Linked DNA regions of Homo sapiens: all the other regions are reported to be linked to region 2. Evidence: microRNA targets listed by miRTarBase, many of them from high-throughput screens and not tested one by one. Region 2 holds a microRNA gene; each other region holds the end of a gene's coding sequence. Distances are between the middles of the regions.
The links. The annotated mature microRNA hsa-miR-382-5p reads GAAGUUGUUCGUGGUGGAUUCG and lies in region 2 at 3,470-3,491, opposite strand. An mRNA with a match to its seed (bases 2 to 7 or 8) in the 3' UTR can be bound and repressed. Matches are read on the target gene's strand: a 7mer-m8 pairs with bases 2 to 8, a 7mer-A1 pairs with bases 2 to 7 and ends in A, and an 8mer does both.

Region 1 (5,117 bases), not on the chromosome of region 2:
GTGTTTATCTCAAGGGCTACAACATCTTAAACATGTAACAACAAGTTGAATATCAACTTAATTTCAGTAGTATACAAACACTCTGCTCCTATACATCTCCATCTCTCTCACTTTATATTGTTCTTGTCATAGATATATTTTTATATATTGTGTGACCATTAAAATAGATTCACTTTTATGCACTTGCCTTTTTAATTATACAGGAAAGAGTGGAGTTACAAACTAAAAGTACAGTAATACTGGCTTTTATACTTACCTATAAAATTACATTTACCTGTGTTATTTCTTTATATGACTTCAAGTTACTATCTATTGTCTTTTCTTTGCAGCCTGATGTACTCCCTTTATTTCTCGTAAGAAAGTTCTACTAATAACAAACTTCATTAGGTTTTGTTTATCCGGGAATGTCTTAATTTCGCCTTCATTCTTGAAGGGTAGTTTTGCTAGATATAACATTATTTAACCTTTTAAAGAAATTACTTATTTCCAGCATTATAAATACATCGTTTTACTCCCTTCCAGCAAGTTATGTCTGTTCTATTCCTTCTAGAACCAAGGGTCAGGTCCCACACTGGGCACCCAAGCTGCCATTTTTAAGACTGCCATGCCACTGAACCACAGAGAAGACAGGAGCCAAGGTAAGTCAAAGCCACAAAGCTTTCCTAACAATAAGTTGCCTTTTTCTTGATTTAACATTCACATAGTTGCTGTAAACTTTTGACTGTTTTCCAGAGTCTGACAAAGTTGGTTCTGACAGTTTCTGGTTGTTTTCTTCTCTTTCCATGGAGGGATGGGAGTCTGGAGCTGCCTATTTGTCATTTTTCTGTTGTTACTCTCCTAGTTGTGAAATGCAGGACAAATCACCTCCTCTCTGTATCTATTTTATTCTTAATCAAACAGCACAACTCCAAAAATGTCATAGGGATGTGGTGAGGAGGCTATAGAGATTTTAAAAAATAGTGTGCAAAAAAGTTTAACTTCACATATTTTGTTGATCTTCCTTTCTACCTAAAAAAATATACTTCATCTTTAACCACCAGCCTGAATAGTTCTCTCACATCAGTAGGAGAAAAACAGTGGCTTTATTTCGACATTTTATTGAACTTTTCATATTACACAATTTACCCAAAACATTTAAAGTAACAGTAAGACAAACTTAAAAAAAAAAAAGTCATACAGACAAAACATCTCTAGGTGAGGCAATATGTAAATTTCATTGTCAAATCATGATTTTGTTACTCTGCTATACAACTTGGTACCATATCAATGATACTAAATGACTCAAGAGTAAGACATTATGCATTCCGTTTATATGAGAAAAAGAGATTATTTACAACTACTTGAAAGAGAAACAGAAATGCCAACAACAGTATCATTCAAATTCTAGTGCAATGTCAATTGTTACCAAGAGATCTTATTTGCTTATATAAATTTTGCAAATAATTCAAACCTGGCTATCTTATTAGAAGCTGACAAAGTATGCTTTTCTGTTGCAAAAGATCAGTGGACAAAAATCCTCCACAACCTCAGCTGATAAAACAAATTTAAGCAGCATTTTTTTTTTCCATTTCCTGAACAGATGTACTAATACTTAGGTAGAAACACTAAAGCATTTGTACTCAATCAATAAAGTGAATGCTTTGTGCAGTTTTAACAAAGCTGCTGCTAAAAAGACAGTTGTGAGTGGTCAGGTATATCTGCAATAGTAAGCAAGTTCTTACCTTTCCAGTTCTGTATGCTTCTGAAAACACCAGCTAAGGTATTAAATACCCATTTTCAAGTGACCTTGTTTTTACTATTTCATATTTATGACATCTAGTGCTGAGATTCTGGGGGCTTTAATAGATAACCTTATTAACCCAGATAATTTTTTTTGGAGCCCATAAAATAAAATTGAGAATGGCATTTCGGGAAGGTCTACATATATGTATTTAGTAAGTTAATTCGTAAGTTCACTTTACATAGTAAATTAATATTTACCAGTTTTTAATTGCTTTCAGTGTACTTGACTCAAATTAAGAAACCCTACAATGTAAGGCAAGTGTATCACAAGCTCCATGGCCAAAATTTGGCTTATATAAGAGGACCAGTGGGCCTGTGGAACATTTAATAGAATCTTTTCCATAATGCTATTAGTTCTACTGAATTAAAAAATATTATTTTGAGCTGTTATTATCTTAAGAAGTATAGCCCATGGATATTTGATTTGGCACCCATGTTAAAGAAAAATAACAATTTTTAAAAGGGAACGAGCGTATCTTACAGTTATCTCACTCATTCTTTTCAAAATTCAGTGCAACATATTTGGCTAGCTTAAATTTAAGTGCGTGACCGTTCAAGATTTTGTTTCAACTAATTTGGAGTGGTTGTAAAAAATTATTCATATTTTACTTTCTACATTTCAATTTTAATGTTAATTTGTATTCTCTTTCTCCAAAAAGGAAAACAAGATCAACCTTATTTGTGTATGGTTCAGCCTATCAGTCTTATAATTATTCTACAATAAAATGAATTTATGTAACTAACTATTTTCATGCTAACTTCCAAAAAATATCCTGAAATATTTAATTTTTAGCTAAACAAAGGATCCTACAGATTTTCACTAGTAAATACTTGATTCTATTCAGATTCTTTTCTAGAAATTTTTCAAACTTGAAATTTTCTGGTTTACTCTTATCTGAAACTATCCTAATTGAAAACAATTTAAATGCTATTGGTTGGACAAAGTAAACCTTAATCTAAAATAGTCACCATAAAATATAAAATGTGATCAGTGGTGTTTAATTTTATTTTCCCCCTTTTGGTGGAATTTAAAAATGGAAAATGTAGGTGTTTCAGTAACTACACACACACACACACGAGAGATTTGCTACTTATTACTGTTTTTACACTTTTTGGATATCACTTTTTTGTTCCAACACTACTATTTGCAAAAAGTAACCATTTCTGTGACATTTAGCAAGTAAAATGAATTTCTATTCGTATGCATTCTTGGTTGGACAATATCAGTGCAAAGTCACTGTGCTTCAGAGCGCTAAATGGTTCATGATACAACTGTGATTATTCACGTGAAGACATGAAACTTTAAAATGTCTAATGATAGAGCAGACACATATCATTTTACTACACAAAGTGCTTAACCCACCAAATTACATTTAGGAATAGACAAAATGTTTTTATTAAACTGATTAGTAATTTTTTTGCTTATTATATGTTGAAATGTACAAATGTACTTTTTCCCCTCACCCATAAAATACAAGGGCACATTTCCTTTAAGGTTTGGATTTTTCTTCAGTATTCATCTAAAGAAGTTTAAATAAAAGGTGATAAGAATAATTGCTTTTCCCTCCACGTACATCTATTTTGGAAAACAAAATTTAAAGCAAAACCTGAAAGAAAATAAAAACGGAAGCCATTATTTAGTGGTGACTATATACTAGACAAGAGGCACAAATTCCCAGATGAATTTTAATTTTGTTTCCTCTCAGACAAGCCATTCAGAAATAAAAGGGAAATGAGGTTCATTTAAGTACACAATTTGTAAATGTGGAAACAGTAGTAATTGTCATGATTATTTTATATTCTCTCTTAACAGTGGCTCTAAAAACAGCCCAATGATTCACACAACTAGCAAAGCAAACCAAACTCTATAAATGTATGAGAAATTAAGTTGCTAGCACTGAAACACTGGGTTTGGATATGGACAAGGATGTTGTCTCTGACTTGTATCTTTTGGGTACCTTGGTTTTTGATATTTTGATGTTCAAGCAGAAAGCGCGTGACTTTGTTTTATGCAATAAGGTGATGTAAGTGTAGAAAATGTGTAGGGATGAAGGAAATTCCAAGTTACATGTGTATACATAAATGGCTTTATAAAATACATATATATAGCCATTAAGATAGTTACATAGGGACAATGCAATTTAAAACATTTATACTCCTGCTTACAGATTGCCAAGTCTAATCATCCCTTAAGTCTTTTTCAATAATGACATAATTTATTTGCTTAAAGGTAAAAACCTCCTGATTGTATTAAGGACATTAATATACTACACTGTATTAAGGATACTATACCAACATCAATCTAGGAGGTAAAATAAACGTTTGGCAAATATTGAAGTCAGATGGAATAGATTCAACTCTATAAAGTTTTGTTTTAGATTTTATAATAAAATTTTGCTTCTGCCTACGATCATGTTTACTTCAGCATGAGTGCTACACTAACTAGAATTTAATAAGTGTTATTTTTATTGAGTTTTCAAATTTGGAAGGATTTTGATCCAAAATATATACCTATGCCTTAAAAAACAAAGTCAAGATAATCAGTATGGGCTTTAGTACCAATTTTACTTTCCAATCCATTTTCTTCCCCAGTATTTCACTTGTATCCCTCATAACTTCATAGCAAATTATCCAGATTATATCTTCCAGACTACTCAGTGAAGGAACCTAAATCTCAAATGTTATTTTGAAGAAGTGTAGAGTAAATAATTTTGGTAATCTGTAAAACAGCTGCATGCAGTGTGTACTGTATTATAACAGCACCAAACCCTTTATAAAAACCAAACACTCCTTCCTCCTGCCTTATGGTATTGATACAGTCTCTCATTCCCTCATATTGTGTATTAATTGGAAGCACTTCATAGCCAAGGTCTGTATTGTCAATTATTGTGCGTGTTCCTTGAATGTGAAGGCGGTGCAAAACTGTTTCCAATGGGTAAAGTATAACGTCAGAACAAAGACTGGCAGCAAAGTTAGCAATAAGTTCTGGAAAATAAGCATCCAACATACTCTGCACAGGGCTAGTGCTCTCAGCTAGGTGGCTATTGTAAGTCTTTCTCTTTAGAATTAGTAGGACAAACTTCTGAATAACTGAGCTGATGATGTAATGAAGAACTCCATGAAGCACCGTAGGGAAGATCAAGGAAAGAAGCGGAAGAAGTCGTTTGCTATGAGGCACTCCCATGCCTATCACTCTTCCAATTCCTTCTTTAACACACTCCAAAATGCCAGTATTATCTCGAATTATCTCACTCTGAAATAAAAATGATGAAATAAGTAAAACTTAACATTTGCTTATTTTGCCACAGAAAAAGGACTCTTTTTAGGTTCCTTTT
Region 2 (5,169 bases):
AAAAAAAAATGGACAGATGGGAAAAGGTGTAAGAGCAATGGTCAGACATTCTCAGAGACGAAATACCTCACAGAACATAGTACCTCAAAGTCTTTCCAACAAGGTTTGTGAAGATCGCTAGATAAAATAGTCCAGGTAAGTAAGAGCTACATGGAGAAGCCACATTAAGACAGCTAGTGAAAGCCTCAATGCAAAAAACAGTGGACAATAGCTATAAATTTCTGAGAAAAAACAAGTAGGCTGAGACTTTTATACCTAGTTAAGCTGTCCCTTGTGCATAAAGAGATATATACTCTCAAATGCACAGGAACTCAAGGGTAGTGTCTATGAGCTATTCTCACAGAAACAATAAGATCATTTCCATTGAGAGATAAATTAAACTTAAAAACTAAAGAACGGAGAAACCTCAGTTAAAAAAAAACAAACCTTGTGGTCAGAAATGAATTCATTTAAATATAGAACTATGGCAAAACACCTGCAAGAATTATAGTTCTAGAACAAATTGCAGATATTTATAATGTAAAATTAAAATGTATAATTGAGAAAAAGCAGGAGATAGTAAGCAAAGGAAGAATAAGAATGCTGACTTCTTTATCTTTCTGAACTAGGAGTGAAATTGAAATAGTTAAAAACCATAACAATCCTAACCACTTAATTTTTACACTCTAATTTTTCTTAATTTTACAGGGATCTTTTAGGAGTTGCTACCTGTGGTGGTAAAGCGAGAAACATTTATCAATCATTTCAATCTCCTTTAGCTTGTTTTTTATGATAAATTCAAGGAAAATTATAGTTAGCATTTTTAATAAAATGATTAGGTACAGTGTGATCTCATATTTTCCCTGCGTCTGTCTTGTTTTTCTATTTGCATGTATGCTCAGACAGGTGTATGAAATTTCTAAAGCCCTTAATGGTTATTTCTGGGTGCCAGAGAATTGGGCAATTTTCCTTCTTTTTCATTTAGATTTTTCCACATCGCTTGAATTTTATTAAGCATGTGTCATTTTCATAAATATGGTAATAAGGTAGAATAATTATCCTTTTTGAAAAGAAAAACAAGAAATTGAAAATGCAACTGTCTTCTGTTCTTAAATTTGCTGTGGCCTCCAGATCAACAGATGTGGTGAGTCACCCTTCCAGTGAGTCCCCAAGAATGCTGAAATCAACGCCCCTTCCCTGAATTTGTCAACATGTCTAAGAAGTCCTTCCTCCATGGTAAGATTTAATAGTGAAAGAGAAGAGAACTATACATTGTTTTTCTTTAAAAAAAAACACAAAACCCCAGAAGCATCATGGGCACCACCACTTCCTCAGTCACAGAGGGGTCTTGAGCACAGATCACATGCTTCTTCCCCAGGAATGCACTGGCTGAGGATTAGGAGTGCTAGCAGCACCTACCCATTGGTTCCAGGGCCACACACATGTTCAGTTGCACTGGTGTGGAACCAACATGAGTATGGTGTCCCCTAAATCGGCATCAGGTCCAAGAAGACACCTGGTGAGATCTGATACCGAAAAGAGGTCGACCGTGTATTGGGCATCATTAAATAATGCGAACTCACCACGGACAACCTCCCTCCGAGTACCATGAGGTGGCACTGCTCGCAGCATTCCTGCATCTTCTGCACAGCCTGGGCAGCTTGGGAGTGGCCTCTGAGGGTGGATGGGACCCTGAGGATGAGTGGACCAGGTGGCTCAAACCCATGCTCTCCGGCCAACCCCAGGTTCACCAAGCCAGGATTAGTGTGCACAGAAATACCACTTCTTGTGCTCAGCTGGCCATGCAGGCAACATTTAATAATGCAAGGATGTCAGTGGCACAGGAGTCATTAAATATGAAGCAAACCACACACAAATGTGTGTGCAAAAGCAGGCTAAGCACTGCCTCCTTGGTAAACCTGGGATTCCCTTACAGGAATTCTCTGGAGGGTGTAAGGCTGCTGTGGGTTAGTAAACCAGGGGTCGCACAGAGTCCTGTTCCTGTTTTCTTCTGTATCCCGACGGCTGACTAATAAAAGATGCTTCTAGATGCCCAAGATTCAACTCCAAGGTTGAATTTGATAGGAATAAAAAAAGAAGTCAGCCATGTGTATTTCAATCTTAACTTTTAAAAAATTAGGGCATCCCAACAACCTCTCTCGATTTTCCTAAAGTTGGTAGTGCCCCAGGAAGTTGTTTTAGGGTCAGCTTGGACTCTAAAGTTAGTAGGTCAGTTACATGCATCCTCAGGAAAATGCTTGCCATGGGGTCAGCCATCCAGAAACCTACCTTGGAAGCAGCACTGGCTCAGGAAGCCCTCCGAGGCAGAATTTGACACTAAAAGAGAGGAGAGCCGTGTATGACTCGCTTTGATGAATCGAATTCATCACGGCCAGCCTCTCTCCAAGTACCACACATGAACACTGGTGAGAAATCCATTGCCTCTCTGGCAGAGGTGGCCGCCCTTCTCGGGAGTCCTGTTAGGAATGGGTGGGATAGTATTGGGTAGTGGGCCGAGCCGAGTGACATACACCCACATTAAGTGCATGCTCACCCGAGGCGCACTTACCTTAAGGGAGTGCTGAGGGCACTGCCTTCTCCCCAGCAGCAAGGATGCAGTTCGTCCTTCCAGACAAGACAGGGAGCTTTTGCGTAGCTCACTGGTCCCTGACAGGAGAATCATGGCCGCTTCCCAAAGCCGCATTATCTCCATGGAGCCTCCTAGGGAGAGACAGGATGCTGGGTATTAGAGGACGACGTGACAGACCTAACAAAGGCAGCACATGCTCTGGGAAGAAGGATTCAGTCACACACCCAGGAGAAAAGCTGGCCCACATCAGGTCCCTCAACAGAAGACAACATGGCGTCCCACATCGGAAGTCAACACTTCAAGGAGGCTGTCACAGTGGTGAAGGGGCTGCCAAGGCTGACTCATTGCATTTTAAGTAAACATACACCCCCAAGAGCACGTGTCATCGCAGTCCACCAAGCAGTCACAGCAAGTCCATGGCCGCTTCCCCAGAGTTGGTGGGAGCTCTGGAAAGTCTTCCTGGAGTGGGAGTGATGCTGAGGGTTGGTGACTAGGTGGCCCACAGGGTGAACACAGTGCATGCCCCTCTGGTCAACCAGTCACACACCCTGGACGGTGCTGACACCAACATCTCTTCTGGAAGTCGGCCTGGGGCCCAGGGAGCCTCTCTTCAAAGTCTTGTGAGGTGACGCTGGTGACAGAACCACAGCTGATTCCCCAGAGTTGGTGAGACCCATGGGAAGACCTCCTATAGGTGCATGGGAGGCTCGGATTATCGGGCCAGGTGACTTACAGCTAGGTCAGCGCATTGTCCATGGCCCGCCATCCATTCTTGGCTTTTCCACATGGTTGACACAAAGACTATCTTTCCTGAAGCTGCCATTGTGTCCAGGAAGTCCTTAGAGGTAGCATTTGGTACTGAAAAAAGTGTTGTCCGTGAATGATTCGTCATAAGTAAAGCGAATCCACCACGAACAACTTCTCTTCAAGTACCACAGAAAAGCAGAGACAAGACAGACAAGGAGTCCCCTTCCACTTCTCCAAGGGGAGTGGCTGCCAACCACCATCCTGTGGACAGAGTGGACACCGAGCATTAGTGAGGCAGCTTACGGGTGTCCTAGGAACACACTGGAGTTTGGGCAACCCTTCACTCACCTCCCTTGGAGTGGTGCTGGCACAGTCCCCCTTCCCTGGAGTTGAAATTGTGGTCCTGAATCCACACGCACAAGGTTTAGAAATAAGAAGAGGGAAGCCACTTGTCACACGCCAGGAGCACTCCGCAGTGTGTAGACCCCAGGGTTTCTGAACAGGGCCTTGGACTTCTCAACAGAGCACACTGAGTTATCCATCAAGCACATCAAGGTGCCAGCCAGGCTCCCGCAGGGCCCACTGAACTAGGGAGGTCCAGAGGGGGCCCCCTTTTGCCACTGCAGGTGCCCCTAGAGAAACTGCCCAGCTCAGGCACGCCAGGCTCCTGGTAGGTTCCCCATCACTGCCCTGGGTAGATTCTCTATCAATGCCCTTGTGGTCAGAGTGATCTTTCCAACACAGACCACGCATCCCCCCTGCTCACAACCCTTCCAAATCCCCCATCTCACTCAGAATAAAACCTGGAGTCCTGCCTCTCCCAGCTCAGACCCAGCGACTCCCAGCAGCTCGGTTCAATCCCACTGGCCTTCTTGCTTTTTCTTAAAGATGCCAGGGGGCTTTCCATGGGCCTTGCCCTCCTCCTGAAATGCTCCTACCCCAGACCTTCCTCTGGTCCACCCCACTCCATTCCCACCCACATCCTCAGAGAGAGCTTTCCAGACCCCTGTATTTAACACAAAGGTCCACCTGCTTTTACCTCTTTCTGTCACTGTAACCCGCTTTCCCTTTCCCCATAAAACCTAGCAGTGGACAAAATTACGCTTCCTAATTCATGTGTTCTCATCCGTCTCTTCCACCAGAATGTAAAGTCCACATGAGCAAGAACTTGATTTCATTCACTGCTCTCTGCTAAGGTCCAGAATCACCTAGAACACAGTGTGCACTCCATCACTATTTATGGAATGACCAAGTCATTCCTTGTTATTTGATCAACTCATGAACCATGTAGTTATGCTATAAACAAAAGAATCTGATTTTTTTAAAAAGAGAGAACTTTATCGAAACAAAATCATGGTGGCCAAAGTCACCAACCCTCTCAATAGCCATTATGGCCATGGGCAGGACACAGCTCTGGCAGGAGAGTGAGCTCAGGGAGACGCCTCAGAAACAAAGCTCAGACTGCTCAACTAACTCTCCACAAACTCCAACAGATGTGGATGCCAAGTCTCCCCAGAGGGCGGTGCTGCTTCCAGAAACCCTTCCCTGGCAAGATTTGGCACTCAAAAATTCTGCCCTGGAACAAAAGCAATAATGATGACCAATTACCTATCAGTCAGTCCGGCTGATGACAGTAACACTACCGAGCCAGCATGTCTCCAGAGATTCATCTTACCAAGGGTGAGGGTCACTTGGAGCAGGTGACAGACGTCTTGTGTGAATGGGCCTCTCACTGGTCAACTTCCCCCAATAATGTAGTGCAGACACCAAAGCCCCTTCCAGAAAATCACAGCCTTAGAAGTAACCATCTTCCTCAGAGATTCGATTCTGGTCATGGCTGTGGCACATGAAGA
Region 3 (5,169 bases), 4.7 Mb from region 2:
AACTTTCACCTCCTATGGCTTAAATAGATGTCATAAAAATTTAGGATTTATATAGGGAATGTACACACTTAAGTCAGCAAAAACTAAATTAATTTTGCCCTATATTGTGCTGGTGAACCATGATATACCTTATAATCTTGTCAAAAAGAAAAGTTGTAGCTGTGTTCACAGGAAAAAAAAAAAAAGAAAAACACATGGCCTGTCAGCCTTTTGCCTAAGATCAATTGGAGTATCTTTTCTTATCAGTTTAATATCTGTTATGTCCTCTATCTAAGGACAATATATTAAATGGATTTTTGGAGCAGGGAGATAGAATAGGCTCTTGCTCCATTAACTTCACACATCGACCTGGTATTGCAAATACCTCCAGAAATAGTGTACCCCTACCAAGAAAAAAAAAACACATTAACATGTTCTTTTATCTCACAGAATTGAGCATTTATTCCCTGTCAGGTAAGAAATATATTAGGTGAAAGTGGCCTTTCAGATTACTAATAATAAAGCTAAACAGTTATTAAAACTAATAAACTATTAAACCAATTATTAATAAACAATTATTAAAATTAACAACTAATTATTAAAACTAAATTATTAGGAATAATTTTTAGAATTGTTTATAAAAGAAGTGAAAAATAATGAAAAAAATATGAACTAATGATATATTACCTATTATAGTACTTAATATAGTGGACCCTCAATATATGTGGAATTAAATGGGGTAAATAATAGATGCATGTTTTAGAATATGAAAATGAAATACCATTTTTGTGTAGCTTTTCAAATTCTTTCTCTGCATTTCCTTGAGCTTCTAAGTAAAACCTTTTAAATGTTGAAAATTCTATAGGGAGCATTTTAGTGGTGTTTCTGTGTTATACATTATAAGTTGCTGAAGTATTAAAGGTTGTATTTAAAATGTGTATACTCTGACTTTGAGAAATAGTTTCACTCAGTTACCCATGTATCTGGTGGTCTAGTGGCTAGGAAAAGAAATAATTTATTTTTTTGAAAGGATGATTACTCACATAAACACTTGGATTTTGCTTTCTGTACCAACATGAAAACTAATGAATTCACTGTTGCATTTCTCTTGTAGGTGGTAGGCTATGCTTTTGACCAGGTAGATGATCATTTACAGACTCCCTACCATGAAACAGTCTACTCCTTGTTGGATACACTCAGCCCCGCCTACCGAGAAGCATTTGGAAACGCACTGCTTCAAAGACTGGAAGCTTTGAAAAGAGATGGACAGTCATGACTACACTTTTTCCTTTCAGAGGGGCTGGTGCTGGTACAGAATGTTGATATAAAGCTTAAAATTCTTGCATATGGTCATAGAAAATGCATCTTTGGTTTTGTGTTTTTATCACTTGCTTCCAACTTAGGCTTTTGGCTCAGAAGATTATTGAATAATGATTTGTCTTAGTTTCTGTTTCAGTAAGGGAATTCTGAGGCCGTTGCTATGATACCATCATTAAGACATTCACATGTCTTCATATAATATCTCTTCATTTCAAATCCTAATCACTATTTCATACTATTACAGGGCTTTGATGCTGCCAGCACTGTCTTTTACATAGGAAATTCTAGATTTGCACAGTAATAGAGGAATTAGAAGTACCTAACTATACACTTTGATTCAGCCTGCTAAATCAGGGGTTCAATACTAGCTTGGACAAACTTTGTAGTAATTAATTGCTACCAGCCTTATTGGAAACAAATTATCAACTAGTTTCCCCTGCACAAATTTTGAAATTCACTGCTTCACTTAATCTATTTATATTACTAATAATGGATTAATAAAGATGAATTAATTATATATTACTTAACTAGTATTAAATGAAAAACAGGGACTGAAATAGTTCTGTATTCCGTGTTTGCAACAGCCAGCCAACTAAGCAGAGGATAAACCGTTAGCAAATGAATGTAATAATTACTCATTTCCAAGATATCTAAGCACATAAGCAAATACAGGAACAGACTTCATTCTTTTTCTTAACAAAAAAGCATCTTCAGTGTGTGATTTAAAAGAAAGAAGATTCTGGTTTCCTAGAAAACAATATTTTGGCCTGTGTTGATTCTTATTCTGAATGTGTGTTTACATAATGTACAGTATATATTCAGAAAGTATTTTTGCTTCAACGTTTACTTTCTATGATGTAGTGCTTTGGTATTCCTACAGCACCCCACCTTCCCCAACAGATGTACAGTGTTCTGTCTCCATTCGAAATCTACAATGTAATATGAGTGCATTGTATGGGTTTGAAACCAAAGGATGAATGAAGCATTCAGAGACTTAATATTTGAAAAAGGAATAGTCAGTATTTTATATTTTATTACAGGTACTGATATTTATAAATTTAATAAACTGTACCATGCTGCTGCATGTTTTCAAGTACATGTTGAACAGTAAGGATTGGGGAGTTGTTTTTTAATGGTCACCTAAAGCAGCTGCTATAGAAATGTTGAACTAAAATTTTGCATCTGGTCATACCTTCATGCATTTATCATTTGCAGATATTTTTCCATCATTATTAAAAAACAGGAACTTTTAGGCTCTGAAGATCATGTGGACCAGAGCAAATTAAAGTTCAGTTTGTGTCACAATTCATTGCCAGACTTCATTGGAATGCTTTGTTTGATGATGTATGTTCATTCTCAGCTTTATTTTCAGATGCTTAACTGGGCAACGAAGTCTAACTTCAGGTTGAACTTTCTCATGTTTAATCTCAGGCTAAATGTAAATGATATTTGTAAAGTTTGAATAAAATTCTGTTTACTCATTTTGAGTTAGTATGAAAAAAAGTGATTGTATGTTTAAGAATTGAAATTGTTCATTTTGTGATAAATGATTAATTCCAAGAGCTTGTTTCCATTTTTTAATTCTGCATTGTTACATTTGGATTTGAAATGACTGAAGTGAGCTTTCTCTTGTTACTACTATGAAAGAGCAATGAGGAACAAGAGGAGAGGACATTAATAAAACTACACAGATATACATGAGAATCTAGATATTAAAACCTCCATTTTACCTGGTCTGTTTAAAGAACTTAACCAGCAGATAGGCCAGGTGTCGTGGCTCACACTTGCAATTCCAGTGGTTTGGGAGGCCCAGGCAGGAGGATCACTTGAGGCCAGGAGTGCAAGACAGCCTGCGCAACATAGATCCCATTTCTACAAAAAATTATAAAAGCATGGCCTGGTGACACATGCCTGCAGTCCTAGCTATTAGGAAAGCTGAAGCATGAAGATTGCTTGAGCCCAGGAATTGGAGACTGCAGTGAGCTACAATCGTGCTGCTGCGCTCCAGCCTGGATGACAGAACAAGACCCTGTCTCTTAAAAAAAAAAAAAAAAAATGAAAATTATAAAACTTAACCAGATAAATTAAGCCTTGATTTCACTTCTAAAGGAAAAAGAAAAAAAAAACTTTTATATAAATAACTTTTACAAATCAGTAGGAAGAAAAAATGCAAACAGTGGGCAAATAATATGGTCAACTCAGAAAAAAAAATAGATGTCAGTAACTACTTGAAAGAGGCCCAACCCAACCATTAACTCAAGAAAGAGAAATTTTAAGTTATTGGGTCATTTCACCTGCTACTTTTGTGATTCTTCTTATTTAAACTTAATACCAGTAAGGATTTAATGAGGAAGCACTCTTACATTCTATTGGAGGGTATATTGTTGAAATCTTTCTGGAAACATTGGTAATAAATCCTTTACAAGTTTATAACTTCTGAATTGGTAATATACTAGCAACCTAGCATAGGGAAATGATTCAGCAAAAAAACTAGTATATAAGGATGTTCATTTCCCCTAATGAAAAATTGGGAAGGCTCTAAAGAGTGGTAAAGTGATGCTACATCTTTTGATGGAAAAATATGCAACCACTAAAAATCATGAAAAAATGGCAATGAGAATTATGCTACACAAAAAAGGATATAAAACTATACATACTTTTTTGAAAAATAATTGTATATGTAACAAAAAAAGATTATAGGCTGTTAGTAGTCATCACTAGGTGATAAAATAGATAATTTTCATTTCCTTAATACTTTTTCACATTTTATACATTAGCTTGTATGTACTAATTAGAAGCAGGAAATGCAATAGATGTGGGGTTTAAGCTACCTAGAGGCTGTCTAGCAAAAGCACCAATCCTTGCTGAGTTGTATCTGCTCCCAGATCCTTGAAGAGGGCAGAATGATTATGAAGAGAAGAGTGCACACCTCATTTCCCATGATGACACTCTTCCCACCTTTCCTCCAGGTTCGGCTGCTACTAATGTACTTACAATCATTAGCTTCTTCTATTGCACACTGTGCTGTTCTCTCCCCGGTGTTCAAAAACAGAATGTGCTGTTTGAATGTTGAGGAACATAGTAAGAAAACACTGAGATTCTGATAGGTGCCACATTGACTTCAGAACTTTCTTTCCAATCCCTTTATTTTCTGGATGATACAGGTGAGATAGACAGATTGAGCGACTTGCTCAGCAACTGCTTGTGAGCAGTGTAGTTGGATCAGAACCTAGGTCTTCTGACTCCGCCAGCTGTCCCCATACAGTACGTGTTAATAAAAACCATCACATTAATTTTGTGTTTATACGAAAACTGATTTTAAAAGAGGGAAAGAATAACAAACATGTTAGTTGGTATACTAGAATTAGTAGAATCTCTGGCCTGGGTGTGGTGGCTCACACCTGTAATCCCAGCACTTTGGGAGGTTGAGGTGGGTGGGTCACCTGAGATCAGAAGTTTGAGACCAGCCTGGCCAACATGGTGAAACCATCTCTACTAAAAATGCAAAAATTAACTGGGTGTGGTGGCACACACCTGTAATCCCAACTCCTGGGGAGGCTGAGGCAGGAGAATTGCTTGAACCCGGGAGGCAGAGGTTGCAGTGAGCCAAGATTGCCCCCTGCACTCCAGCCTGGGCGACGAGTGAGACTCAATGTCAAAAAAAAAAAAAAATAGAATCCCCTTTTTTAACCTACCAATATATATAAAATTATCTAGAAGCTATCCCCCCTGTAACTGTGGCAAGCTCATTTCATGAAAGAAACAGGTAAGTTAAATATTTCATTGTACCATGACTGGTTGAATAACTTTCAAAGTGTTTACCTGCTTAACTGCATATCAACAAGGAATGCAGAGATAAACTAAAAATTT
Region 4 (5,169 bases), not on the chromosome of region 2:
TGCGGGCCCTTTTTTGGTTTCATATGAATTTTAGGATTGTTTTTTCTAATTCTGTGAAGAATGATTTTGGTATTTTGATGGGAATTGCACTGAACCTCTAGATTGCTTTTGGCAGTATGGTCATTTTCACAATATCGATTCTACCCATACATGAGCATGGGATGTATTTCCATTTGTTTGCGTCATCTATGATTTCTTTCAGTGATGTTTTGTAGTTTTCCTTGTAGAGGTCTTTTACTTCCTTGGTTCAGTATATTCCTAAGTTGTTTTTTTGTTTGTTTTTTGTTTTTTTGCAGCTATTGTAAAAGGGGTTGGGTTCTTGATTTCTCAGCTTGGTTGCTGTTGGCATATAGCAGGGCTACTGATTTATGTACTTTACTTTACTTTTGTATCCTGAAACTTTGCTGAATTGATTTACCAGTTCTAGGAGCTTTTTGGATGAGTCTTTAAGGTTTTCTAGGTATACGATCATGTCATCAGCAAACAGCGACAGTTTTACTTCTTCTTTACTGATCTGGATGCCCTTTCTTTCTCTTGTCTGATTGCTCTGGCTAGGACCATGTTCAGCTTTTCACAAACTATTTAGGATTAATTTTGTGTCCCACTACATAAAATATTAAAACCTTGCAACCATATATGCTTTATAGTTGTCATGTTATTTATGTATGTTCAGCCTCACATACACTGTGATATTTTTTCTTTGAACAATCATATGTATTTTTTTAAAGTTAAACCGAGAGAGTATTTTATATTTACCACTTGTTTACATTTGTTATTTATGGAAGGATTGGTCCGACATGAACTACTAAGCCATTATCAGACAATAATGAGTTTTCCTTGAAAACAAAAATCATTGTAGTGACACACTCCAAAGTGGTTTACTGTCTTTGGAATGCACAGTTTTGCCCAATATTATTCAGCAAGAAGGATACTTTTTTCTCATTGCTAGTTCATACTTCTACTTTCCTGCCTCTCTCTTTCAGTTTTCTAAAACCACATCCGTAGCTGTGATTATGTTCTTGGTTTCATTTTCCTAATTCTGTTACAAATTCTGATGACATGAGCAACCAACCCCCATACTAGAAGTTAGAATAGCTCCTATCTCACCAGAGTAAAAGAAAAATTGCAAATTCACATGCCCAAAAGACTGACCCTGCACACCCTAGTAGAGTTTATTTTTAAAAGAAAATCTAAGTCAAATTAATGTGGAAAGCATTGCTTCTTTACTGCTATCCCTGGAAGCAAAGCACCATCTTGCCCCCAAATGTGGAAAAACTCAAAAACTCTACTCTTGCATTCTCTGTTTCCACCATGCTATACTTAAAAAAGACTACCTTTTTACCCTTCTCTCCCCAAATATTAGAAGTTTCTCATATCAGAGTAATGAATACAGTTCTGTCCTCTGAAAACCTCTTCCCTCTACATCAAAGCTTTCTGAAATAAAAGTAGTCCAATATCTACTCATTCAGTCTTCAAGTCCTTAAGTTTCTGTTGCCACCACTGCTTCATCAAAGATACATCACTGCTTGATGATTGATGGTTAAGAGCAAGAGCTCTGCATCCAGACCTGGATTAAAATCCTGGTCCTGCCACTTACCTTTGAAAATTTGTTTTGTCTCTCCTAACCTAAGCTTTCTCTTCTATAAAATGGGGATAACAGTACCTCTCTGTTGGAAGTGTTCAATGAGGCTGACCATTCTCTTCCCAAACCTTTCTTCGTTGGCTTCCCATAATACCACTCTCCTGGGTTTTTTCTTGTATCATATGCTTTTTTGTGGGCTCTTCTGCTTCTCCCTCTAAATACTTATTTTCTTTCATTTGGTTGCCTGTCGTCTTATTCCTAGCTTTCCGTGGATGACTCCTTTCAAAACTATGGTTTTGATGATTCCTCAAATCTAAATTACTCCTGAATCTTAAAAAATTTTTTTTTGAGATGGGGTCTTGCTTTGTTTCCCAGGCTGGAGTGCAGTGGCATGATCATAGCTTACTGCCACCTCAAATTCCTAGGCTCAAGTGATCCTCTTGCCTCAGTCTCCCAAATAGCTGAAACTATAGGTGCGCACAACTGCGCCTGGCTTTTTAATTTTTTGTAGACATGAGGTCTGAGCCATCTTGCCCAGGCCAGTCTCCAACTCCTGGGTTCAAGTGATCCTCTGGCTTTGGCCTCCCAAAGTGCTGGGATTACACGTGTGAGCCACCGTATCTGGCCTACTCCTGAATCTTTATCTTCAAACCAGGTTTCATTCCTGAAATCTAGCTATTCAGGTATCTGATGGATATCATCATTAGATATCTTAAACATCTAAAACTAGATTCCACAACCAACCCTCAACCCTAGTCCAATATTCCTTTACTCTCCCTGGTTATCTAAGCCCTGAAATGGGTACCCAATTATTAACCTGCCACATCCAATCAATCCCCAATTCCTGTTGATATTAGCTCCTAAATCTCTCTTCCTCTTTTTTCACTAAGACTTTTCCAGTTTCAGAAAGTAACTAGACCATTTCATTCTAATATACTAGACTCCATGCTGAAGTAGAAGTGTTCTCAATTGTTCAGGGTACAAATCCACGTTTGCCACATACCACCAGCTGAATGACAAAGGCATCACTTCTGATACTTTTTGAGATACAAGAAATGAAGGGGGTCCTGCTCAGTTAGCTGCTTCTTCAATGTCAAAACAGACCCTGTAATAAAATAAGGAACTCCAACCGGTTTGGTAGTAGGTCAGTTTTCTATCTATCATCTATCTAATCTATCTATCTTTAAATTATGGTGATTAAAGGGCACTTTCAGTGCAAAATGGGGACTGGCCCTCAGTAAGCAAATTGCTGGCTTATCATGCATCAGGGTTGCTGCAGAGGCCATGCCTGTACCAAGCAGGAACTTGGCCTTGAGGTTCCTCCTCCAATTTCAAAATAGGCTTAGACACAGGTAAGGGAAGACCGTGATCATAGGTTCTTTTAGGTTTTTATTATGATCTCTTGTTTTTATACCTGAATAACAATTTTCCCCAAAGGAATGATGATATGTAATCTTTATTCTAAAAAGGACACATAGTGTATTGATAGCATCTGGTCAGTGGTTATCACTGACTATCTTCAATAACAATTACTCATCTAAGAAACTCTTCCTTTTTTCTTTAAAATCGTTGGTGCTGATCCAGACAAGCCCTGGGCTGCTGCTCCTCATCCTGATAGGATCTAGCTTCTAGACTGACCCCTCTCAAGAACAAAATACAGGGAGGGACTTGTTCTGGATTCCCTTTGGGCAAATGCAGCTGCAATACTCAGCAGGCTTGGCCTCAACTTCCAGGGCTTTTGTTTTTTTTCTTTTAAATGTATACTATTAAAGTTGGATTATTAATCTAATATTTGTGTTTGCCTTGGGGACTAATAAACCTCACAACCTGAGGATCACCTCAGTTAAACCAAGGCTTTGTCATCACAGAGCTACTCAGCAGAGGTCTGTCTCAGCTGTTCCTTGAACTAAGGAAGGAGTCAGTCAGCTAGGAGAGAAAAGTCCTTTTGAAAGCAGACAGCATCATGTACCTTGCTGACTCAGCTACATACATAAGGCCTCAAGCCTTGCTGCCAGTTCTTAAAGGAACTGTGTTCTCTTTTCACTTTTCCTGGCTTATGGGGCAGTAGAGGGTTTCCGACCTCAAATGCCAATACCAGGTAGGTAGAAGGACCTTAGGCTCAACTGCTGGCTCCTCGTAATAACACACACTGTATTCTGTGGTGGGTGCCACTCTGCTCTGCCTGTGTCATGTCACCTTTCCTAATCCAGCACATCCTCGCCCAAGAAAACCCTATTTTGGGGTCATTCATTCTATTCTTATTTCTCTCTTATTTGTTCTGATGTTTCAGTTGGACTTGATTCCACCGCAGGCTCTGGCTCCAGAGGAAGAGATGGGGGCTTTGTGAACTGGGATGTTCCTCCAGCACCTAGTAACAAAATAAAAACTTGAATCCTCATGTTCCACAATTTCAGAAGAAATCATTCTTTTTTGCTGTTAGAGTTCAAGAGGAAACCCCATATTTTCTGGAACCAGTGGGACTGACCCATTAACTATAAGGGAAGACTATAACTGAGAAATAAAGCAACAGTCAAGTTTGCCTTCAATGAGTCACTGAAAAATATTTACGTGTCAACTTCTGATAAAGCAGTAAAAATTAAACATTGCATAACAGGATATACTTAATAACATATTGCTAAAATTGGAAAGACCAGTGTATAGACCATCCAACTAAGTCTGTGAGTAGCTGTTACCTACTACATAGCTCGCCTTAAGGAAACAAGTGCCAATTTAGCCACCCTGTGTTTTTTTTCTCCCCTTGTGGCCAATACTACGTTGGACATATGAGTCTGAAGAGAACCTCACTGAAAGCTATAATCTCTGCTGACAGACACATGTGGCTTGTACCTGCCAGGTCTTCATGGAGCTCTGTATGGTCCTACCTGAGGGGAGCGTCCTGTATGCAGCTGCTGAAGACATTGCCTGTCCTAGAGCTTGATTAGAGCCCAGAGGCTGCTGGAAACTGGCAGGTTTGCTGGTTGAAGTGGTCTGGTGCTTTGATTTGGGATCTTTAACTGGTTTGGTCCAGACCAGTGCCTCCCCAACCTGGAGAGCAGCTCCCAACTTCTGAGCCATCTCCACCATCTTGTGTCCACAAAGGAAGTAAAAGAATCAAAAGCGTGACTGTCAGAGACAAGCCAACCCACTTCTTTGGTCTTCGAGCTGGGGTTTTAGCTGAAATAGTGTCTGGTCGTACTAGCAGTTGAGGCAGGAAGTACTTATCAAACAGTAGAGATTACAGATTGCCTTTACTGGATGGCATGGTGGTTCACATAGGATCTCAAAACCCAACAATTCAAGCCTGGTGCATTACCGGGCCAAACAGTGCATTTCCTACAACAAGTGAAATAGGGCTGGGCACGTGGATCACGAGGTCAAGAGATCAAGACCATCCTGGCCAACATGGTGAAACCCCGTCTCTACTAAAAATACAAAAATTAGCTGGGCGTGGTGGCACGCGCCTGTAGTCCCAGCTACTTGGAAGGCTGAGGCAGGAGAATTGCTTGAACCCAGGAGGCGGAGGTTGCAGTGAACTGAGATTGCGCCATTGCACTCCAGCCTGGGCAACAGAGCGAGATTCCGTCTCA
Region 5 (4,000 bases), not on the chromosome of region 2:
CTTGGCATCTTGATTCATTCTTAGGCTGCATACAAATCGTAGAGAAAAGATAAAACGGCAAATTTGAGAGTAGAAGTCATTTTTTAATAAAATTCTAGTATACCTATTAGCCAGTGGAACCATTATGGTAAACCAGTTTGTGGTTATAGAGCACTAAGTTTCTACAGGCAACTTGAATAAACATAACTTGGGTCCATTTTGCATACAGCAACATCTTTACCTTTTTTTTCATTTTTTCTGTAGGGCAATGTGTATGTGAAGTGCCCATCAATTGCTGCAGCTATTGCTGCTGTCAATGCATTGCATGGCAGGTGGTTTGCTGGTGAGTTTGAATTTATTTTTTGACTGATTGTTATTAAGGCTCTATAATGAAGATGCTAAACCCAACATGTCTGTTTCTTTTAATAGGTAAAATGATAACAGCAGCATATGTACCTCTTCCAACTTACCACAACCTGTTTCCTGATTCTATGACAGCAACACAGCTACTGGTTCCAAGTAGACGATGAAGGAAGATATAGTCCCTTATGTATATAGCTTTTTTTCTTTCTTGAGAATTCATCTTGAGTTATCTTTTATTTAGATAAAAATAAAGAGGCAAGGATCTACTGTCATTTGTATGCAATTTCCTGTTACCTTGAAAAAATAAAAATGTTAACAGGAATGCAGTGTGCTCATTCTCCCTAAATAGTAAATCCCACTGTATACAAAACTGTTCTCTTGTTCTGCCTTTTAAAATGTTCATGTAGAAAATTAATGAACTATAGGAATAGCTCTAGGAGAACAAATGTGCTTTCTGTAAAAAGGCAGACCAGGGATGTAATGTTTTTAATGTTTCAGAAGCCTAACTTTTTACACAGTGGTTACATTTCACATTTCACTAATGTTGATATTTGGCTGATGGTTGAGCAGTTTCTGAAATACACATTTAGTGTATGGAAATACAAGACAGCTAAAGGGCTGTTTGGTTAGCATCTCATCTTGCATTCTGATCAATTGGCAAGAAAGGGAGATTTCAAAATTATATTTCTTGATGGTATCTTTTCAATTAATGTATCTGTAAAAGTTTCTTTGTAAATACTATGTGTTCTGGTGTGTCTTAAAATTCCAAACAAAATGATCCCTGCATTTCCTGAAGATGTTTAAACGTGAGAGTCTGGTAGGCAAAGCAGTCTGAGAAAGAAATAGGAAATGCAGAAATAGGTTTTGTCTGGTTGCATATAATCTTTGCTCTTTTTAAGCTCTGTGAGCTCTGAAATATATTTTTGGGTTACTTCAGTGTGTTTGACAAGACAGCTTGATATTTCTATCAAACAAATGACTTTCATATTGCAACAATCTTTGTAAGAACCACTCAAATAAAAGTCTCTTAAAAAGGCCACAGGAGATCTTCATTTTTCAAATGTTTTAAAGTTACAGAAATTTGAGAACAGAATTAGCTTCTTTTAGTCTCAATTCAGTACTTGCCTCTTGGGAAAATGTTCCGAGTCTGCGGAAACTTGCCCTCACGTTGTCCCCCATGAATTCCTTTATTCTATTAGAGTCTAGCCCTGTGTATTTTAGAAGAATGTATCAAAACTGAGGGGTTTACCAAAAAGAAAAGGAAACAGCCTGGCCTTAAAACCTGGGCATTCTTGGTCTCCTGCATTGTCTGGGCATATTTATGAAGAAATTTTCACCATTTACAATACATACTTAACAAAATGGCTTAACTTCAAACTGGTTTCCAAAATTGATTTATATATTAATATATTAAATAAGGTGCATATATTACTGTATTAAGGGGTTTTGAGCTTTCATACTAGTTGGGAAGCAAGCTGTCACCATTTATACTCAATTCTCTTCAACTGTTTATCTCTTGGTAAATCTTTTGAGTAGGAAATGCTGCTCCTAGCTTATCTTCAAATACTGAGTTCCTTACCTCATTTGTTCAACTTTTTTTTTTGTTAGCATTGAAGCACAAGTTTTACAGGCTTATTCAGAATTTCATATCAGTCGTTTTGTTTGACATTTATCCCAATAATTGTTCTAGTGATTTAATTTGTATGGAAACTCCCAAGGTTCAATTTCTTTTTCTTTTTGAGATGGAGTCTTGCTCTTTGGCCCAGGCTGGAGTGCAGTGATGTGATCTCAGCTCCATCTCCCAGGTTCAAGCAATTCTCCCACCTCAGTCTCCTGAAGAGCTGGGACAGGTGCGCACCACCGTGCCCAGCTAATTTTTGTATTTTTAGCAGAGACGGTGTTAGCCCGGCTGGTCTCACACTGACCTCAAGTGATCTGTCCGCCTTGGCCTCCCAAAGTGCCGGGATTACAGGCATGAGCCACCGCGCCCAGCCTCATTGAAAATTTACTTTTCAATACCAGACTGCAGAGTTCTTTGGGGCAGAGACACTCTGTCAGTGTGCTCTTTTTCCAAAGTATCTCCTGCTATCAGTTTTTCCCCTTGAACCAAGTCTTCCTAACAAATTTGTTGTGTCATTGCTTTCTAGGGAACTGGACCAGCAAATGTGGCCTTTAGTGGTTAATCTCATCTGTGCCAAAATTTAGTTGCTACCAGAGTGAAATTTGGTGTGTAAATAATGTTCAGAGGAAATGTGGTTGGAGTGTAGTAACTTGAATAGTGTCGTGCATAGAAAACAGCTCATTCTGAGTGAAACTGTTTATGTCCAATCAGTTCCTGAGTCAGCATCCCACTGGTTCGAAAATCTGTAACTAATCTGGTAATGTCCTTAATTTCCTCCTGCCTGTCAGTGTTCCAAAGTGTTCATCTAGTTTTCTTTTATCTTTATAATAATTACTACCATCTTTGAAAGTTCTGTTTAAGAAATGCTTAATGGGCAATGCGGGTTAGTAACTCCAGGGTCTGCGTGGCCTGGGCAGGTGAGATGGACAACTGCCTCATTACAGAAGCTTTTTATCATCAAACTAGTAAGTTTTGTGGAGGGCAAGCTATATAGATTGTTGATGAGTGGTTAGAAAATCATCTGGAATTTAGCCAGTTGAGAAGCTACAGAAGTTTCTATTTTTTTTTACAGTGGATGAACTGTTTTGCTTTTTCTGATAAAGCCACTAGGTATATCTAAATAACAACCTCGGGCTGGACGTGGTGCCTTATGCCTGTATATGTGAACACTGGGAGGCGGAGGCGGGTGGATCATGAGGTCAAGAGTTTGAGACCAGCCTGGCCAACACAGTGAAACCCCGTCTCTACTAAGAATACAAATTTTTTTTGTTTTGAGACAGAGTCTCGCTCTGTCGCCCAGGCTGGAGTGCAATGGCTCGATCTCAGCTCACTGCAACCTCCACCTTCTGGGTTCAAGCGATTCTCCTGCCTCAGCCTCCCGAGTAGCTGGGAATACAGGCGCGTGTCAACACACCCGGCTTAAGTTTTTGTATTTTTAGTAGAGACGGGGTGTCACCGTGTTACCCAAGATGGTCTCCATCTCCTGACCTTGTGATCCACCAGCCTTTGCCTCCCAAAGTGCTGGGATTACAGGCATAAGCCACCGCGCCCAGCCTAACAATACAAAATTTAGCTAGGCATGGTGGCACGTGCCTGTTATCACAGCTACTCGGGAGGCTGAGGCAGGAGAAACGCTTGAACACAGGAGGCAGAAGTTGCGGTAAGCCGAGATCGTGCCACTGCACTCCAACCTGGGCGACCAAGGAAACAACCAACCTCAGGATGAACATTGCTTTGGAAATAATGCAATGTGTGACCTTGAGGAAATTTCGGCTTATAAATCCATTTTTTGAAGTAGTTTTTCTCCTTTAAAATGGTGACCGTAGTAACAAGCACAGAGTTGTACTGAGTAATTAGTTGAATAGTATCTATGGAAAATACTAGACACTCCCAAGTTTTCCAATTTTGGATTAAGAGAGGCAGGCCTTGTGAAAGAGATACTAACCCTAGTCATTACGTTAGTCCATCTCTTTAGTGCAGAAGATCCTTGGCAAAGCTGGATAATAGGCTGAGAGAAGAATATTCCTTTAAGAGAGG
Region 6 (5,169 bases), not on the chromosome of region 2:
TCTGAGTGTCATTCCAGCCAGCGGGCTCCATGCTGGGCAACTCAGTTTTCTCATGCCACAGCTTTTTACATTTCTGTGTATCAGCAAATTCCAAATTTGGGTGTCCTGGTTTTGTAACATGTAAGGACAAGGAGCTCAACATTCTTTAAAAACAAAGTAGCTTGAGAATAAGGATTCTAGGTGATTTGCACATGGTTGAGTGTGTCTTGCATCACCTGCTCGCAGAACATTAGGATGCCTGAAACACAAAACCACCAGTACATTCTGATTCTACCTTTTTAAAATGCTGCTGCAATTGAACAGTCATTAAAGAAAACCAGACCCAAATTAAAATTTCTGCCTGCAGCATTTTTGCCATGTTGTGGGAGTTTGTTTAAGCTACTCCCAGTCAATTTCAAATAAACAGTAGCAGAGTTCGTTTAAGACGACTGCCATTGCTAACACAGCTGAATGAAATCAGAGGTCTCTTTGTGGGCTCCCAGTAGATCCAGGCCCTGTAGGACCAGTTCACTTGTCCACTGTAGCTAAATAGATCATACAAAAGGGCCAAATGAACAGATCTACCAGATAGGAATATGATGAAGTGGCCTGTGGAGACCGCTGCCACAGTCACTGTGTCATGCCTTCTGTATACCCCAGCCCAATTCTAAAGGAGCTTTGCAAGCTGACTCATCTCACAGTATTGCTGTGTTTAATCATAATTGGTCTCTTCCCATTCATGTCACTGATCATTTGTGTTGAATTCTTTATTATTTTAAGTTATTCTGCATGAGCATAGAAAGTAGTTAATATTCACGAGTTGCCTGTGGTGTATACTTCATCTCACTTGAGTCTGTTGAGAAGTGTGTTTGGGGGAATCATCCACTGGTGACACTGCCGGTCTGAGTAACCCTGTCTCCCTTTCTCGGCTCTGAAGGAACTACCTTGTTCTGCACTAGCTCCATCCCTAGAGCCCTGCTTCTCCAGGCCCGAGAGACCAGCAAACCGTCGCCCTCCGTCCCGTTGGGCCCCACATTCCCCCACTGCCTCACAGCCTCAGTCACCCGGAGACCCGACGTCCTTGGAGGAGCATGGTGGCGAGGAGCCGCCCGAGGAGCAGCCACACCGAGATGCAAGCTTGCATGGATTATCACAGTATAATTCACTGTAATTTGCATAACCACACCATCACCATGAACAAAACTCTGCCCAACAGGAGAGATCTAGTTTTCTCAAGGTCAAAGAATGTTTTTTAAAAACACAAAGCTGCTGAATGTTCAACCTGTGAAACTGAGATGTTTCTAGAATGAAACAGTAAATGTGCCTGTAATAACTTAATTTTTTTCATAGCTCAGAAAACTATTTTTGTCTCCATCTTTTTTACACACAGTATATTAAACGAAAAGGTAAATAAGGTATAAATAGATTTAAAAAATAAAAGTTTTAAAAAATGTACATTTTAAGAGATTCTGAACACCCTCGCTGTCAATACCTGACTGCCTCTGTTAAATTTGCACTGTTACATTTTGGTTCAGTTTATTTCCATGTTGAATTAGAGTGGATTAAGTTAATTTTATTTTGTCAGTGTTACTGTTTTTTACGAATTTTTTAATGCTTCAGACTGTCTGATTCAGTGAACTTTTTGTAGTGAAAAAGCCATGAAGCCAGTAGACAAGACAGATATTCTGTATGCTGGAGGGGATACAGGATGATTTTGAAAAGGTACAAAGTCCTCAGTGGGCTTAGAAAATTCACTGTATGATCCTTATATTATCCTACTTGGCTTGCACGTCTTCGGGTGCATGTATATACCGCTACTGTGTCCTCGCCATCACCTAAATGTGACTCAGTCTGTTCCACTGTAATATGTTGTGAATTTCCTTGTACTGTACTTTTATTGTTGGTCTTCTTGCATCGATGATCCAACAGCAACACCATTTTTAAATTATTGTGAAAAGATTAACTGGCAATGTACAGAGTTTACTCAAAGTTTTCTTAAGGGAAAACACTACAAAAAGTCACAAGGATACCAAATGGAAACACATGATGATGCCTCTGGGTCTGTATGAGACCGTGATGAAGTAGAAATAAAGCCCTTCTGAGATGGCAGCATGTCTCGGTCTCTCATTTCACACACCCTCCATCTTTTCCTAAGGACTCAGATGGAAAGTTTTCCATAGCTAGGGGAATGAGGGAGAGAGGAGATCATGTAAAGAGGCAACAGCTGCTAATATATCTTGCTGGGAATGCACTCTTTGGGTACGTGATCATGTTGCAGTTTTACTGTTCCCCGTAAGAGAGTCCTAGGATAGAGAGACAGCTTTATTGTTGAAAAGCCAAAACTGTGGTGTGGGCAGGGATGTGAGGAAACTGGTTACCTACAAGTCAGAGTGTGCCCGGCCTCTCTGCCCGCTCTGCTCATTAGGAGAGAGGGAGTGGCCAATAACTCTAGAAGAGGCCTTTCCATCTCTGATCCTGAGATGAGCCCGCCTCTCAGTGTTTGGTGGAGTAGAAAGAAGTGATGCTACTGAAGAGCCCAAAAAGAATGATTTCAGGCTGAAGCTTCTGGCTTTAGTATTTCATTTAGTGCTTCATTAACCCAACAATTTTCTTCTTATATAGATGAGCTGCTAATGTAATAGGCTATCCTAGCATTACCACAGCTTCATCCTTAAACTGAAATATTTTCAAAAAATAAAAACCAACAAGTGTTGGCAAGGATGTGGAGAAATTGGAACCCTTGAGCACTGTTGGTGGGAAAGTAAAATGGCCCAGCTGCTGTGGAAGACAGTATGACTTCCTCAAAAAGTTAAACATAAAATTACCATAGGATCCAGGGATTCCACTTCTGGGTATACACCCAAAAGGACCAAAAGTAGGGACTCAAACAGGTGTTTGCACACCTATGTTCATAGCAGCATTATTCATAATAGCCAAAAGGTGGAAACACTTCAGTTGTCCATTGACAGATGAATGGATCAACAAAATGTGGTATATACATATAAAGGGATACTATTCAGCCCTAAAAAAGGTAAATTCTGACGTACTACAACATGGATGAACCTTGAGGACATTATTCTAAGTGAAATAAGCCAACCACAAAATGGCAATTATTGTTTGGTTCCATGTATCTCGTTTATATATCAAGAGTAGTCAGAGTCAAAGAGAGAAAGGAAAACAGTGGTTATCAAGGGTTGAGGAGGGAATGGGGAATTGGTGTGTAATGGGTACACAGTGTCAGTTCAGGATGATGAAAGAGTCCTGGAAATGGGCAGTGGTGATGGTGCACAGTGAATATACTTGATGCCACTGAGTTGTACACTTAAAAATGGTTAAAATGATAAATGGCCTATAGATTTTACCACAATAAAAACTTTTTTTTTTTTTTGAGGTGGAGTCTCACTCTGTTGCCCAGGCTGGAGTGCAGTGGCGCCATCTCGGCTCACTGCAAGCTCCGCCTCCCGGGTTCACGCCATTCTCCTGCCTCAGCCTCCCGAGTAGCTGGGACTACAGGCGCCAGCCACCACGCCCAGCTAATTTTTTGTATTTTTTTTTTTTTAGTAGAGACGGGGTTTCACTCTGTTAGCCAGGATAGTCTTGATCTCCTGACCTCGTGATCCACCTGCCTCCGCCTCCCAAAGTGCTGGGATTACAGGCGTGAGCCACCATGCCCAGCTTAAAAACTTTTTTTTGAGATGGAGTTTCGTTCTTGTTGCCCCAACTGGAGTGCAATGGCGTGATCTCAGTTCACCACAACCTCCGCCTTCTGGGTTCAAGAGATTCTCCTGCCTCAGCCTCCCAAGTAGCTGGGATTACAGGCATGTGCCACCACGCCCAGCTAATTTTGTATTTTTAGTAGAGATGGGGTTTCTCCATGTTGGTCAGGCTGGTCTCGAACTCCCGACCTCAGAGGATCTGTCTGCCTCGGCCTCCCAAAGTGCGGGGATTACAGGCATAAGCCACCGTGCCTGGCCAATAAAAACTTCCAATAAATGCAAAATATAAATATTTCACTTTATCACTCTAGATATACCTGCAAACAAACAATCAGCAGGTCAGTAAATATTCATTGCCTATTCTGTGCAGATTGCAAATGCTGAGAGGTACATTGGTATTCCTTCAATTGGAAGCAACCAGCCACCAACAAGAAGGGAAGTTGTGGCTGTCACGACTGAGAGCCTCAAACCGTGCCATCAGGACTTTGCTCAGTCTCCTAACTCTGTCTACTCTGTATGGCTTTATACTCAGACAAGCATCACAAAAATTGGCAACAATGGTCCCTAGCTGCTGCTATTAGTTTAGCAACTCCTAGAGAAAGGGGATCTCTTACCAGGAGCTCCAGTGAAAGCCCAGGACCGATGATTCTCATTTGGTAGGGATTAAGTCTCATGTCTGGCTCTGAGCCAATCGTGGTGACGGGAAGACCCAGCAAAGGAAAAGCAGGGTACGATTAGAATAGAGGGCGTCAGAAAGGCAGTAAAGGCGTATACCACTGTGGGACACCCCAAAATTGCAAGGAAAAAGCTCTGAGCACCACAGAACTTGCCAACTGGTTGGAAGAGATAACATTCCCAGGCACAATAACAATAAAATGAAAAATGGTGTGGTAGAAATTCTAAGTACAGTAGGGCTTGAGTTAGGCTTGGCAGTACGGGAAGCATTCCAATGTGCAGGAGGAGAAGCAAGTGGGAGGTGGGAGGAGCAGAGGTGTGAGGGGCAGTAATAGACACAGGTCGCATTGGGCAGTGATGCAGAAACCAGGCTGGGAGCAGAACTTTCATCAAAAAAGCCACATCTGGCAGCACCAGTGCCTTGAAAAGCCGTCTGGGAACTTCTTCTCACATCTTATTTTCTAAAAGTTGGACATGTGTATTCTTAAGTCTAGGGTGGAAGCACTCCAACTGTTAAAGGCCAGGCAAGACAGTAGGATGAAATCATTTTCCACACCACTGTCCAGATGAATGCCAAGGCTGCTATGTGGGTCACACATGGTGTGAAAGGGGAGCAGCTGCCTGAAGGGAATGGCTTCATGAGCTGCCATGAATGTGCCAGTTGCTTTTATGCCCTAAAGAAAGCAGCAGAAGATTCCTCAAACATAGCCACAGACCACACGTCAGGCGTGCCCTGCCTCCTGGGTAACAGCCAGCACCACCAGCCCAGAGACATTTCTTGTCCAACTGCAGCCAAATT

Region 1: the mRNA of SLC25A46 is a reported target of hsa-miR-382-5p. Seed matches in the 3' UTR shown: 7mer-A1 at 3,667-3,673.
Region 3: miRTarBase lists GSKIP as a target of hsa-miR-382-5p. Seed matches in the 3' UTR shown: 7mer-A1 at 1,375-1,381.
Region 4: the mRNA of BBS4 is a reported target of hsa-miR-382-5p. The part of its 3' UTR that is shown has no 7-base or 8-base seed match.
Region 5: miRTarBase lists RBM39 as a target of hsa-miR-382-5p. The part of its 3' UTR that is shown has no 7-base or 8-base seed match.
Region 6: miRTarBase lists MTCL1 as a target of hsa-miR-382-5p. The part of its 3' UTR that is shown has no 7-base or 8-base seed match.

Annotation. Positions count from the first base shown.
Region 1 is chr5:110,761,122-110,766,238 of GRCh38, reverse strand. It overlaps SLC25A46 (solute carrier family 25 member 46), which reads right to left. Exons shown (of 8, transcript NM_138773.4): 8 at 1,082-5,035. The coding sequence ends at 4,457. Among named protein-coding and RNA genes, the nearest start is that of SLC25A46, 25 kb to the right of the region's middle.
Region 2 is chr14:101,052,638-101,057,806 of GRCh38, reverse strand. MIR382 (microRNA 382) reads right to left here and starts at 3,501; the gene lies at 3,426-3,501. It overlaps MIR134 (microRNA 134), which reads right to left and starts at 3,120; the gene lies at 3,048-3,120. It overlaps MIR668 (microRNA 668), which reads right to left and starts at 2,549; the gene lies at 2,484-2,549. It overlaps MIR485 (microRNA 485), which reads right to left and starts at 2,388; the gene lies at 2,316-2,388. It also overlaps MIR323B.
Region 3 is chr14:96,384,430-96,389,598 of GRCh38, forward strand. It overlaps GSKIP (GSK3B interacting protein), which reads left to right. Exons shown (of 4, transcript NM_016472.5): 4 at 1,094-2,859. The coding sequence ends at 1,255. It also overlaps the pseudogene RNU2-33P. Among named protein-coding and RNA genes, the nearest start is that of AK7, 5.1 kb to the right of the region's middle.
Region 4 is chr15:72,736,259-72,741,427 of GRCh38, reverse strand. It overlaps BBS4 (Bardet-Biedl syndrome 4), which reads right to left. Exons shown (of 16, transcript NM_033028.5): 15 at 4,465-4,666; 16 at 2,955-3,950. The coding sequence ends at 3,841. Among named protein-coding and RNA genes, the nearest start is that of ADPGK-AS1, 44 kb to the left of the region's middle.
Region 5 is chr20:35,700,990-35,704,989 of GRCh38, reverse strand. RBM39 (RNA binding motif protein 39) reads left to right here. Exons shown (of 17, transcript NM_184234.3): 16 at 244-322; 17 at 409-3,643. The coding sequence ends at 509. Among named protein-coding and RNA genes, the nearest start is that of ROMO1, 3.6 kb to the right of the region's middle.
Region 6 is chr18:8,830,691-8,835,859 of GRCh38, forward strand. It overlaps MTCL1 (microtubule crosslinking factor 1), which reads left to right. Exons shown (of 15, transcript NM_001395333.1): 15 at 917-2,088. The coding sequence ends at 1,150. Among named protein-coding and RNA genes, the nearest start is that of GACAT2, 130 kb to the left of the region's middle. RefSeq lists an enhancer at 1-296.